Linked DNA regions of Homo sapiens: region 2 is linked to region 1. The links come from fine-mapping of genetic effects on gene expression. A gene starts in region 1. The other region holds a variant in brackets. All regions are shown on one strand. Distances are between the middles of the regions.

Region 1 (5,384 bases):
GTTTACCCATTGTGCATGCTTTCTTCTCCTCTGATAAATATGTATTGCTTTTCTCCCAAACTTGCTGAATATATATGATTATATTTTGTAATATGGACCCCGTGAGGTATAAAACCCAACCTGTCCTTCCCCTATTCAAAGAGGGAGCACCTTCGGCTCCTGCCAGAGACCTTCTCTTCCCAGTTTGAAAACTAATATCGACAATAAAGCTCTTCTTTCTAGTATTTAGCCATCCTGGTGGTCTTTTGGATGATAAAACAAAACCCCCAAATATGGTGCTTTGACATACTGAACTCAAGAATCAGCCTCAAGGACTCTCTCTGACTTTTCCCTGCCTCTCTGTCTCTCTGACTCTCTTTGCTTCCTGAAGCACCAGGAGGAATTCCCTCTGGAATTTCCTTATATAACTAAGAAAACTCCTTTCCAAAAAAATGCAATTATCTTAAGACCCCTTCCCTTGAAATCTCATCAAATAACCAGGAAAGATCAACCACCCAGAAGAGACTGGGAGTTCTCACTATGTCAGGACTGACTTTTCATCTATTCCTTCCAGGGCAGTTCAGAAATTACCTGGGAGGCTCAATCTGCATAACAAGACAACCTTTGTTCACAGTGACATTCCGCCCCTCACCTTACTGCCACCTTCCCCAGAGCTCAGAAAAACTTTGTTTCAGGCCATGTTCTTTGGGCCCAGTTTCCCCTGGCAATCATTTACTCCTACACCCCTCATCTCTCTTTCAGTGAAGAAGGGTATATAAGCATCTGGACCTCATTGTGTTATTGGGTAATCACACTCCTGTGATTTTTTTCCCTGTGCACATAAAATAAGTTTTACATGCATTTTTTTTCTCCAATTAATCTGCCTTTTCTCAGTTCATTTCCAGTGAACCTTCAGCAGTTGGAGAGGAAGTGTCCCTGTGCCCCTGAGTTTGCTACAAATATATGAAAAGAAAAAAAATACTTTTGAGAGTTTGTTGTATTTTGAAATTGAGGATTAGGGATGGTTGATGGGCCTATGTTGTGCAAAATTCTATAAATTATTAATAGAGGAATAGAGTTTTTTAAGGAAAATTTGGCTTTTTGTTAAAAATTGTTTACTTTTCTAGTTTTGGAGACAGTATAGAGACAATTTTTTTAGATAGTATAAAGAAGGATGGAGTAACTCAAGCAAGCAGTTGAGAACAAGCCAGAAAAAAATTAAGCAAAAATGTGGGTGGAGGTGGGGGTTGGGGTAGGGGTAGAGGGGAAAGAAAGCCTGCATTGAAGAGAATAAAGAAAACTATTGGCTAATTGGAAAATAAACTTATTAAAGAGAAGATGATAGAAGTTGGAGGCAAAATAAAGATTTCTTTATATCTTTGAGAGCACACTCAAGACATTTTCTTATTACTTTTGAATACACATTATAAATCTAGATAAAAGAACAGTCACACAATCCTGGTCACCTCTTAATTGTCCCGGTTTGTAAATTTTTCAGTGTTCCCTAATTTTTTAAGGAGAATATGCACTTAGGCTTCTTTCTAGTTGAGAAGCCAAGAAGCCCTTTGGGATTTGGAGGTTAGTGAGCTCTGGATGCTCTAGGCATTCTTTGTTAAGGGTCCTGCAATAATTAGCACGGTAATGATTGAGAGGTGGGAGAAAAGTTCCCGAAATTGTAAATATAAGAAAAGCCCGGGCGTTTATTTTACATTAGGTTTGTTCTCATTTGACACTAACTCGATTGTTTCTTAGCCCAAAATGTTGCTGCAGTCAACATGTGTTCAACCTATGGAAAGATGTGGTTGGGGAAAAATAATTTTTATCAACCAAAAGTATGAAATCTTGCAACATTGAGGATTGTGTTTCATAGAAGAGAGAACATGTTTCTTGCATTCTTCAGCTCTTAACCACTGTTTTGGGAGTCTCACCAAGTTTTTGGGATGACTAAAGATCTAGAAACATCGCCCCTCCTCATTAATGTATTCAATAAATTATTTATTTTATAGAAAAGATGGAGATGAGTCAAAGAGCTACAAGAGACAGATAACCCACCAATCACATGCTGAACCAGGCAATTACAAAATTTCAATTTCAATTTCAAGAGGTGTTTAGTCCTCACATAAGGGAGAAAATATGGTGCATCTACTTAAGAACAGGACGATGTCCTATTGTGTTGAATCCTTAGCCCTTAGATGCTCAACAAATATTTGTAGACTGCTTAGTTTACCATTCAGGAAATATACACATCACTTTTCCTATTGCAGGTCCTGGGCTAGATCTTGCTAAGGACAAGGACATCCTAATACCCAGGAGGGGAATTAGATCCAGCTTGGCATAATGCAAAGCGGAATTAATAAAGGTTTTAGCCAACACCCAAAGGGCAGAGCAGTGGAGATGGAAATAAGACTTACTTCATATTTCGCAGGAGCTCTCATTTCCTTTTTAGCGCCTGCGTTTTCAGAGCAAATGCCCTTCATAGGGGGGCGCAAAAGCAGGTGAGCCCAGAGAACAGAAGCGGCAGCAGGCTAGCGGAGAAGTGAGAAAACAGGGAAAACCGGGGGACTCCTGGGCCCGTCTGGTTTTGAAAAGAGGGCAAAATGCATTTAGTCACTTTTCTCCTCCGTCCCGCAAATCTCTCAGGATGTGAAATTGTCCGGGGAGGGGCGTGTTACATCACTGAGAGACAGAGGACCTGTCCTTGCTCCAAGAGGCACAGCTTAGGAAACCTAGGAATCCACCTCTGGCGCCTTCTAGAAAACCGCCCACTCCTGCTCCCTAAGAAAAGGAAACCCACGTGACTGGGCGAAAGGGGAGAGCCCGGCGACCTGGAGCCAGCGAGGCTGGGGGCCCGGCGAGGGCCGGGCTGGGCGCGGGGCTGCTTCAAGGAACTGCCGCGCGCTGCGAATCGGGGGCGCGGGCTGGCACTGGGCTCCGCCCGCGGGCCAGAGGCGGGGTAGGGGCGGGACAGGCGCGAGCCTCCGGCACTGGGAACTGGAGCCGAAGCCACCAAGTGCTGGCCCTCCGCCCCTCCCCGTACGGCACCGCCTCCCGCAGCCCGGGGAGGGGCCGGGGCGGAGCGAGCCCGGCCGAGCCGGGAGGAGCGGGCGCGGGCGCTGGCAGAGCGCGGCGCGGGGCCGGCGGCGAAGGTCCGGGGTGGAATCGACGTCGCTGCGGCTGCCGACGACCCACACCCGGCCGGCCGCCTCCGCAGACCCACCTTGGCCGCGCGGCAGGGGGCGCGCAGAGCCCCGAGGGAGCGAGTCCCCGCGCGTGGCAGCTCGGCGGCTTCTCCCTTCGGGAGGTCCGGCTCCCGGCTCTCCGGACCCGCCTGGCGTCCTCGCCTGCGGCGGGGCGGACGACAGCGGCGCCCAGGAATGGCTTCGGCGGGCAGCGGCATGGAGGAGGTGCGCGTGTCGGTGCTGACCCCCTTGAAGCTGGTCGGGCTGGTGTGCATCTTCCTGGCGCTGTGTCTGGACCTGGGGGCGGTGCTGAGCCCGGCCTGGGTCACAGCTGACCACCAGTACTACCTGTCGTTGTGGGAGTCCTGCCGGAAACCCGCCAGCTTGGACATCTGGCACTGCGAGTCCACGCTCAGCAGCGGTGAGGGCCTGGCGCGCCGCGACCCCTGCCTCCCGCCCCGGACTGCCCCGCGCCCCACTGCCAGGACAGTCACCGCCTGTCCCCACGTCCCCGCATCCTCTGCCCTGGCCCGTCCCACCCCGTCCAGGCCCTTCTCGGATCCTGGGGCTCCCGCCACCTCCCTGGCATCCACCCCTCTTCCCTCCCCATCCCTGGTCGCCAAACCTAAAGCGACAGCCCACGCCCTCTCCCTTCCCCGTGGCCATTCCTCCTGTTCTGGAGTAACACGTACGCTATTTTGGGTATTTGTTATCATTTGAGGCGAGAGCCATGTGGCTGTGTAAAAAAATGCGACGCCTTCCACACCCCCGTTAAAAAAGAAGCAGGCAAAAACGCCCCAACTCCACCGAGATGCTGCGGGGGTTCGCTGTTCGGTCTTCCCCACTCTTTTTCCTTCCTCTCTCGAGGACGAATTTGCCTAGTGTTCACATTTCTGCCGGTTCCACTCCACCTTATCTGCGTTTTCACCAATGTATTTCGGTTTGGATTTTATTTCCTTACGTTTTTGATGGATATGAAGAGTTGAGAGAGGGACAGGCTTGTTTTCCTTTCCTTTTTTGGTGACGCCGCCGTTGATTGTGAGTTGCCTTTCTTTCTCTGCCACTCTAAGTAACTCTTCTCTCCTCCAGACCTTTCTTTTCTCCATGAGCTACTCACAGATGCCTAGAAAGTTGTGCTTTATTCCGCCAGCGCTGAAAGCTGCAAATGGATAAGATGGGGGTGGGGAGTGGAGAATAAGGTAGCTACTGAGGCTACCAGTCCCAGGGGGCTTTACTGCTTTCCGCCCTCCCTGACCCTCCAGTTGCCTTCCCCGGCGCCCCAGTTATGCCCTTAGCAAAAATCAGTCAACTTATGATTTCTCGCTACAAACCCCTTCCTTTCTAATTTTGATTCTTCAACTGCTGGTGTCAGCGAAGAGAAAGGGAAATAAAGAGAGAGGACCTGCCGGCGATTTTCTTTCTTTCTCTCTCTTTCTCTCTCTCTCTCTCACACACACATACACAGACTCACACACACACACATAGACACCTGAGAAACTCATTACATTCCTTCCAGTTTCATGTCTTCTCTGGGACTATTTATAAAGCTTTCCTGGAAACGTTTCAAGTTGTAACAAAGTTGAAATAGCACAAAAAGCCACAAAAATCTGATTTTCTTTTGTCTTTGGTTTCCTGTTATAACACAGGAAAATTTGACCAAGTTTCTTCTGTAAATTTAATTTTGTGTTTAAAAAAGGCTTTTTCTTTGATACTACCTCAAAATTCCCATTGAAGGGTTTCCTCTTTGTTGGTTAATTCACTGTGGAGGGAACTGGTTGGCAGCAGGAGGTCAACATTTAGGTCCTTCAATTCTTTCAGGGTTGGCAGTTTACAACTAAAGATAAAATAAATCGGCAGAATTTCTTTCTTCGGTAACCAGGGGATCCAAATAAACTTTGGCGAAAATATCTCCTTTCCCCTCTTCAATAATAAAATTTATGTAGGAATGACAGCTACTGCACGACTCCTTGGCAACGTGAATGTTTTGCCCCTTTCTCTCTGTCTCCTGAAATAATAGACCCCTGATTGCATAAAGACTTTTCAGATAGGTTAGAGAAACCAGTTTCAACTCACATTTGCTTTTCAAGCCAGTACCCTTTTTTCTTGGCCAGGAATGTAGGGAATGGGGAGAAGCCAGCTCGAGTTTGCAGAGCAACATACAGTGTTTGCTAACCTTTTCTTAATTGCCTCCATACCCATTTATCTCAGCTTTTTTCCTCTCTAGTC
Region 2 (5,384 bases), 130 kb before region 1:
AATTGGTTCAGCCATCATGGAAAGCAGTTTGACAATTTCTCAAAGAACTAAAAGTAGAATTACCATTCGACCCAGCAATCCCATTACTGGGTGTATACCCAAAGATATCTACTGTTCTAACTAGAGAAGTTTCGAACTCAGACTTTATAAACAAGCAGTTTATAGCCAAGACTTCTATGACTAAGCAGCTAATTTTGTAATATCTTCTTTCTCCCAGAAAACATATGGAGGAAAAGGGTAAATTAAAAAAAAAAACAACACCACTTTATCACCATTGGGTATATACCCAATGGAGTATAAATCATTCTATCATAAAGACACATGCACACATATGTTCATCACAGCACTATTCACAATAGCAAAAACATGGAATCAACCTAAATGTTGGTAGACTGGATAAATAAAATATAGTACATATATACCATGGAATAGTACAGAGTCAAAAAAAAAAAGAGTGAGATCTTGTCCTTTGCAGCAACACGGATGGAGCTGGAGGCCATTGTCCTAAGTGAACTAATGCAGGAACAGGAAACCAAATACTCCGTGGTCTCATTTCTTAGTGGGAGCTAAACATTGAGTACAATGGAAGGGAACAACAGATACTGGGGCCTACTTGAGGGAGGAAAAGGAAGAGGAGGATTGAAAAACTACCTCTTGGGCACTATGCTTATTAACTGAGTGGTGAAATAATCTATAAACCAAGCTCCCATGGCACACAATTTACCTATATAACAAACCTGCACATGGACCACTGAACCTAAAAGTTAAAAAAAGGAAAACATAGTATCAGATAAGATAATTTTGAAAATATTGTCCACGTCCTAAAACACTATGTTAATTTACAAATGCTCTCTACCCTAATAATTTTTACCTATTCATCTGTCAAAATCTTCAGAAATTTGTAAGCAATGCACTAGATTCCCAGCATATACCATATGGTAACTACAATTTCAAGGTTACGTATTTGCATGATTTAAAGACAATGTATGGGACTATCATTTAACAAAAACCTATTATATGGGAGAGATTTTAAAAATAGTAGATATGAAGGTAAAGTATGGAACTGACACAACAAAAACATATATATATAATTTATATCACATGATATGTTCATGTATGTACTTTCAATATTACATATGTACATATTATGTATATAATTTACATACAGCTATATTATTTTATGTTTCTGACAACTGTTTCTTCATCTTCATTTTACGGGCAACCAATCTGAGGTTCAAAGGGGTCAAAAACTTTTCAGAAATATTTTAACTCCTCAGTCTCAGGGCTGAATATAGAACGCAGGAAGCCCTGATTTCCAAAGTCCTTCCCAATTTACTGGGCTGCATTGAAGGCCTAAAGTTCAAAATAAATAGAAATTCAATCTAGCAAGGATGCAAAATAGAGAGAGAAACAAGTGAAAGTGAACGTGGAGCTAGTTTATAGGGGGAAGTTTAATTTTCTGGGGAATTCTGAATTTGTGAACTCTAGATTACCATTTTTAGACCAAAAGCATTTAGATGTATTCAGGGAGTAGCCACATGGTTCGAGTGCCCTAGGTAACATCTAGTCTTCCTTATCATGGTATCTCTCTCTCATTAGGTCAAAGCCCAAGCAAAGCTAGAATTGCAAAGAAGTCATGTGCATTGATCACTAATATGTTCTGTCATAATATTAAATAATTTACATGATGTAATAGCATAAATTTGTATTTCAGTGAATACATGCTACTGAGTGGACATCAGTGAAATGAGTACACTAGAGGTAAGGAAGATCATCACCAGCTAGTTCCTTTTCAGGTACAGGCTTTAAGGGGGTCTAATCACTACACAGGAACAAGAATCATTTTATTTTTCTCCATTAGTTGGAGAATATTAAGCTCCAATTGTCATCACATGGAAGGGAAGTAAATTGCTATTGGGACATTTAGGCACCCAGCAGCCTGACTGACTTTGTCTGCACAGCAGTTCAGATTATACATCTTTGTTTTTAAAGTGAAAAAATGCATATTATTTAAGTAACACCTTCTATAAAACAATGACACTTTAAAGGTCTATGAAAGTATTGAAAGTCATTACCTCTGTAAAAGTGAATAGGTAGCTATGATACTTAAAACTAAAATTCTTACTTTTTGAGCACGGCCAAGTTTTATATGTCAAGATACATTTCTTATAAAATATATAAATCCTATTTTTAAGTTTCAAAATCAATTAATAAGCAATTGGTAACTATTCAGTCACAATGCTATAAAAGGCAGAGGGCTAGGTGATGAAGACAATGCAAAAAATTAAATCAAACACAGATCCATTTCTCAGTGATTTCACTAGCTTGGGGACATATGAAAAATATGTACACATACATACATATATAAAACCTCTTCACCATAAATTAGGTTATCTCTCTCCTCCAATCAAAATCCTTCAATTGGCTTCACATTTCTCTCAGAGTAAGATGCCAAGTCCTTAGTAAAGCCTTAGCAAATAATGTGCAAAAAAATGCACATTATTTAAGTAACATCTGCTAGAAAACAATGGGACTTCAATGGTCTGTGAAAGTACTGAAAGTTATGGTGTACCTCCCTAAACCATAGGCATCCCCACCCATCCTCATGATCCCTATCATTAGTTCGCTGATATTTTAGTTCCCTGACCTTTTCAATCTTCTCCTCACTCAGTCTACTCCAACTTCAA[T/C]GGATTCCTTGCTATTTTAGGAAAATTTGCAGGAAAGCTTCGACCTTAGGGCACTTAAACTGGCAAACCTCACTCTCTGAAACTCTCTGCCCTCAGATAAACACATTACTAAGTCCTTTATGTCTTTTCCATTTTTGCTCATATGAGACCTTATTAGTAACATTCTTTTTAGGGAGCTCTGTACTGACTGTTTTTTAAAAATTCTAAATTGCACTTTTATGCTCTGTGATAGATAATTTTAGATGTCAACACAACTGGATTAATGACTACCTAGATAGCTGGTAAAACATCTCTGAGGATATTTCTGGAGGACATTGACATGTGAGTCAGTGGACTAAATGGGGAATATCTACCCTCAATGTAGATGGGGATAATCCAATTGGCTGGGGTCCCAGATGAAACAAAAAGACAAAGAGAGGGCAAATTCTTACTCTCTCTTCTGGAGCTGGGCACTCTTCTTCTCCTGCCCTCAAACACCAGAACTCCAGGTCCTTTGGCTTTTGGACTCCGGAACTTACACCAGAGGAAGCTCCAGGCCCTCAACCCTTCAGCTTCTGACTGAGAGTTACAGCATTGACTTCACTGATTCTGAGGCTTTTGGACTTGGGATGAACCTCGCTATGACCTTCCCTGGATCTCCAGGTTACAGACAGCCTAAAGTGGCACTTCTTAGCTTCCAAAATTTTGTCAGCCAATTCCCCCAATCTCATCTATCTATTACCTATTTATTCTCTCTCTCTGGAGAACCCTGACTGTATTAGTCCATTCTCACATTGCTATAAAGAACTATCTGAGACTGGTTAATTTATAAATGAAAGAAGTTTAACTGACTTACAGTTCTACAGGCTGTGCTGGAAGCATGGCTGGGGAGGCCTCAGGAAACTTACAATCATGACAGAAGGTGAAGGGGAAGCAGGCACATCCTACATGGCTGGAGAAGGGGGAAGAGAGAGCAGGGGGAGATGCTACAAACTTTTAAACAACCAGATCTTGTGAAAACTTACTGTCATAAGTACAGTAAGGGTGAAATCCTCCCCCACGATCCAATGATCTCTCACCAGGCCCTTCCTCTAACATTGGAGATTACAATTCAACATGAGATTTGGGCAGGGATCCAAATCCAAACCATGTCACTGACTAAGAAATTAGTACCAGAGGAGTTAGGTGGTTGCTATAGCAAATAACTAAAAATGTGGAGTCTTCTTTGGAACTGGCTCATAGGTAAAGGTTGGCAGAGTTTTGAAGTGAATGCTAGATAAAGCTTGTATTACCGTTAATGAAGCATTAAGGGTGATTCTGGTGAGAACTTGGAAGAAGAGAATAACTGTAAAGAAAGCCTCTGGCCACTTAGATATGACTTAAGTGTGCATGACCAGAATGCTCATGGAAATATGAACAGTAAAGAGTATTCTGATAAGGTTTCAAGTGGAAAGGAGGAACAAGACACAAGCATACTGCATTTTATTGTGCTTGGCTTTATTTTGCTTTACTGATACTGAGTATTTTACAAATTAAATGTTTCTGGCAACCCAGTATCGAGCAAGTCTATGGATACCATTTTTTCAGTAGTATGTGCTCACTCCTTGCCTCTGGGTCACATTTCAGTGATTCTCACAATATTTGAAGCTTTTTCATTATCATTAAATCTGTTATAGTGATCTATGATCTTTGATGTTACTATTGTAATTGTTTTGGGGTGCCACAAACTGCATCAATATAAGACGACAAAATTAATAAATGTATGTGTTCTGATTGCTTCACAAACTAGCCATTCTTCCATCTCTCTCTCTCTCTTTGGGCCTCCCTGTTCTCTGAGACACAAAAATATTGAAATTAGGCTAATTAATAGCACTACAATGGCCTCTAAGTGTTCAAGTGTAAGGAAGAGGCACACATCAGCCAGGCACAGTAGCTCACACCTGTAATCCCAGCACTTTGGGAGGCCGAGGCAGGTGGATCACTTGAGGTCAGGAGTTTGAGACAAGCCTGATCAACATGGTGAAACCCTGTCTCTAATGAAAACACAAAAAAATTAGCTGAGTGTGTTGGTGCATGCCTGTAATCCCAGCTACTTGGGAGGCTGAGGCAGGAGAATCGCTTGAACCTGGGAGGTGGAGGCTGCAGTGAGCTGAGATCGTGCCATTGCACTCCAGCCTGGGTAACAAGAGTGAAACTCCGTAAAAAAAAAAAAAAAAAAAGAAAGAAAAAAAAAGAGGTATACATCTCTCTCACTACAAATCATAAGCTAGGAATGATTAAGCTTAGTAAGGAAGGCATGTTGAAGCAGAGATGGACTAAAGCTAAGCCTCTTGTGCCAATTAGCCAAGTTATGAATGCAAAGGAAAAGATATTCAAAGAAATTAAAAGTGTTATTCCACTGAACACATGAATGACAAGACAGTCAAACAGCTTTATTGCTGAATTGAAGAAAGCTTTATTGATTTGGATGGAGGACCAAACCAGCCAGGCTACTTTAAGCCAAAGCATAATCCAGACCAAGGCTCTAACTCTCTTCAATTCTATGCAGGCTGAGAGAGGTAAGGAAGATGCTAAAGAAATGTTTGAAGCTAGCAGAAATCAGTTCATGAAGTTCAGGGAAAGAAGCTGTCTGTATAACAGAAGTTGCAGCAAGTTATCCAAAAGATAATTGAAGAAGTTTAGAAGCTAAACTAAATGACAGATTTTCGATGGACACAA

Direction of the effects. Alleles are on the strand shown, and positions count from the first base shown. SD is a standard deviation of normalised expression in the study named.
For the expression in tibial artery of the gene that starts at base 3,098 in region 1, allele C in region 2 goes with a higher level than allele T (small effect, 0.23 SD a copy in GTEx).

Evidence for each region.
Region 2: its variant is fine-mapped to the expression of TMEM47 in tibial artery (GTEx, PIP above 0.99).

The regions. Positions count from the first base shown.
Region 1 is chrX:34,654,999-34,660,382 of GRCh38, reverse strand. TMEM47 (transmembrane protein 47) reads left to right here and starts at 3,098. Exons shown (of 3, transcript NM_031442.4): 1 at 3,098-3,579. The coding sequence starts at 3,354.
Region 2 is chrX:34,787,856-34,793,239 of GRCh38, reverse strand. No RefSeq gene overlaps it. Among named protein-coding and RNA genes, the nearest start is that of TMEM47, 130 kb to the right of the region's middle. The variant T/C (reference allele first, on the strand shown) is at 2,688.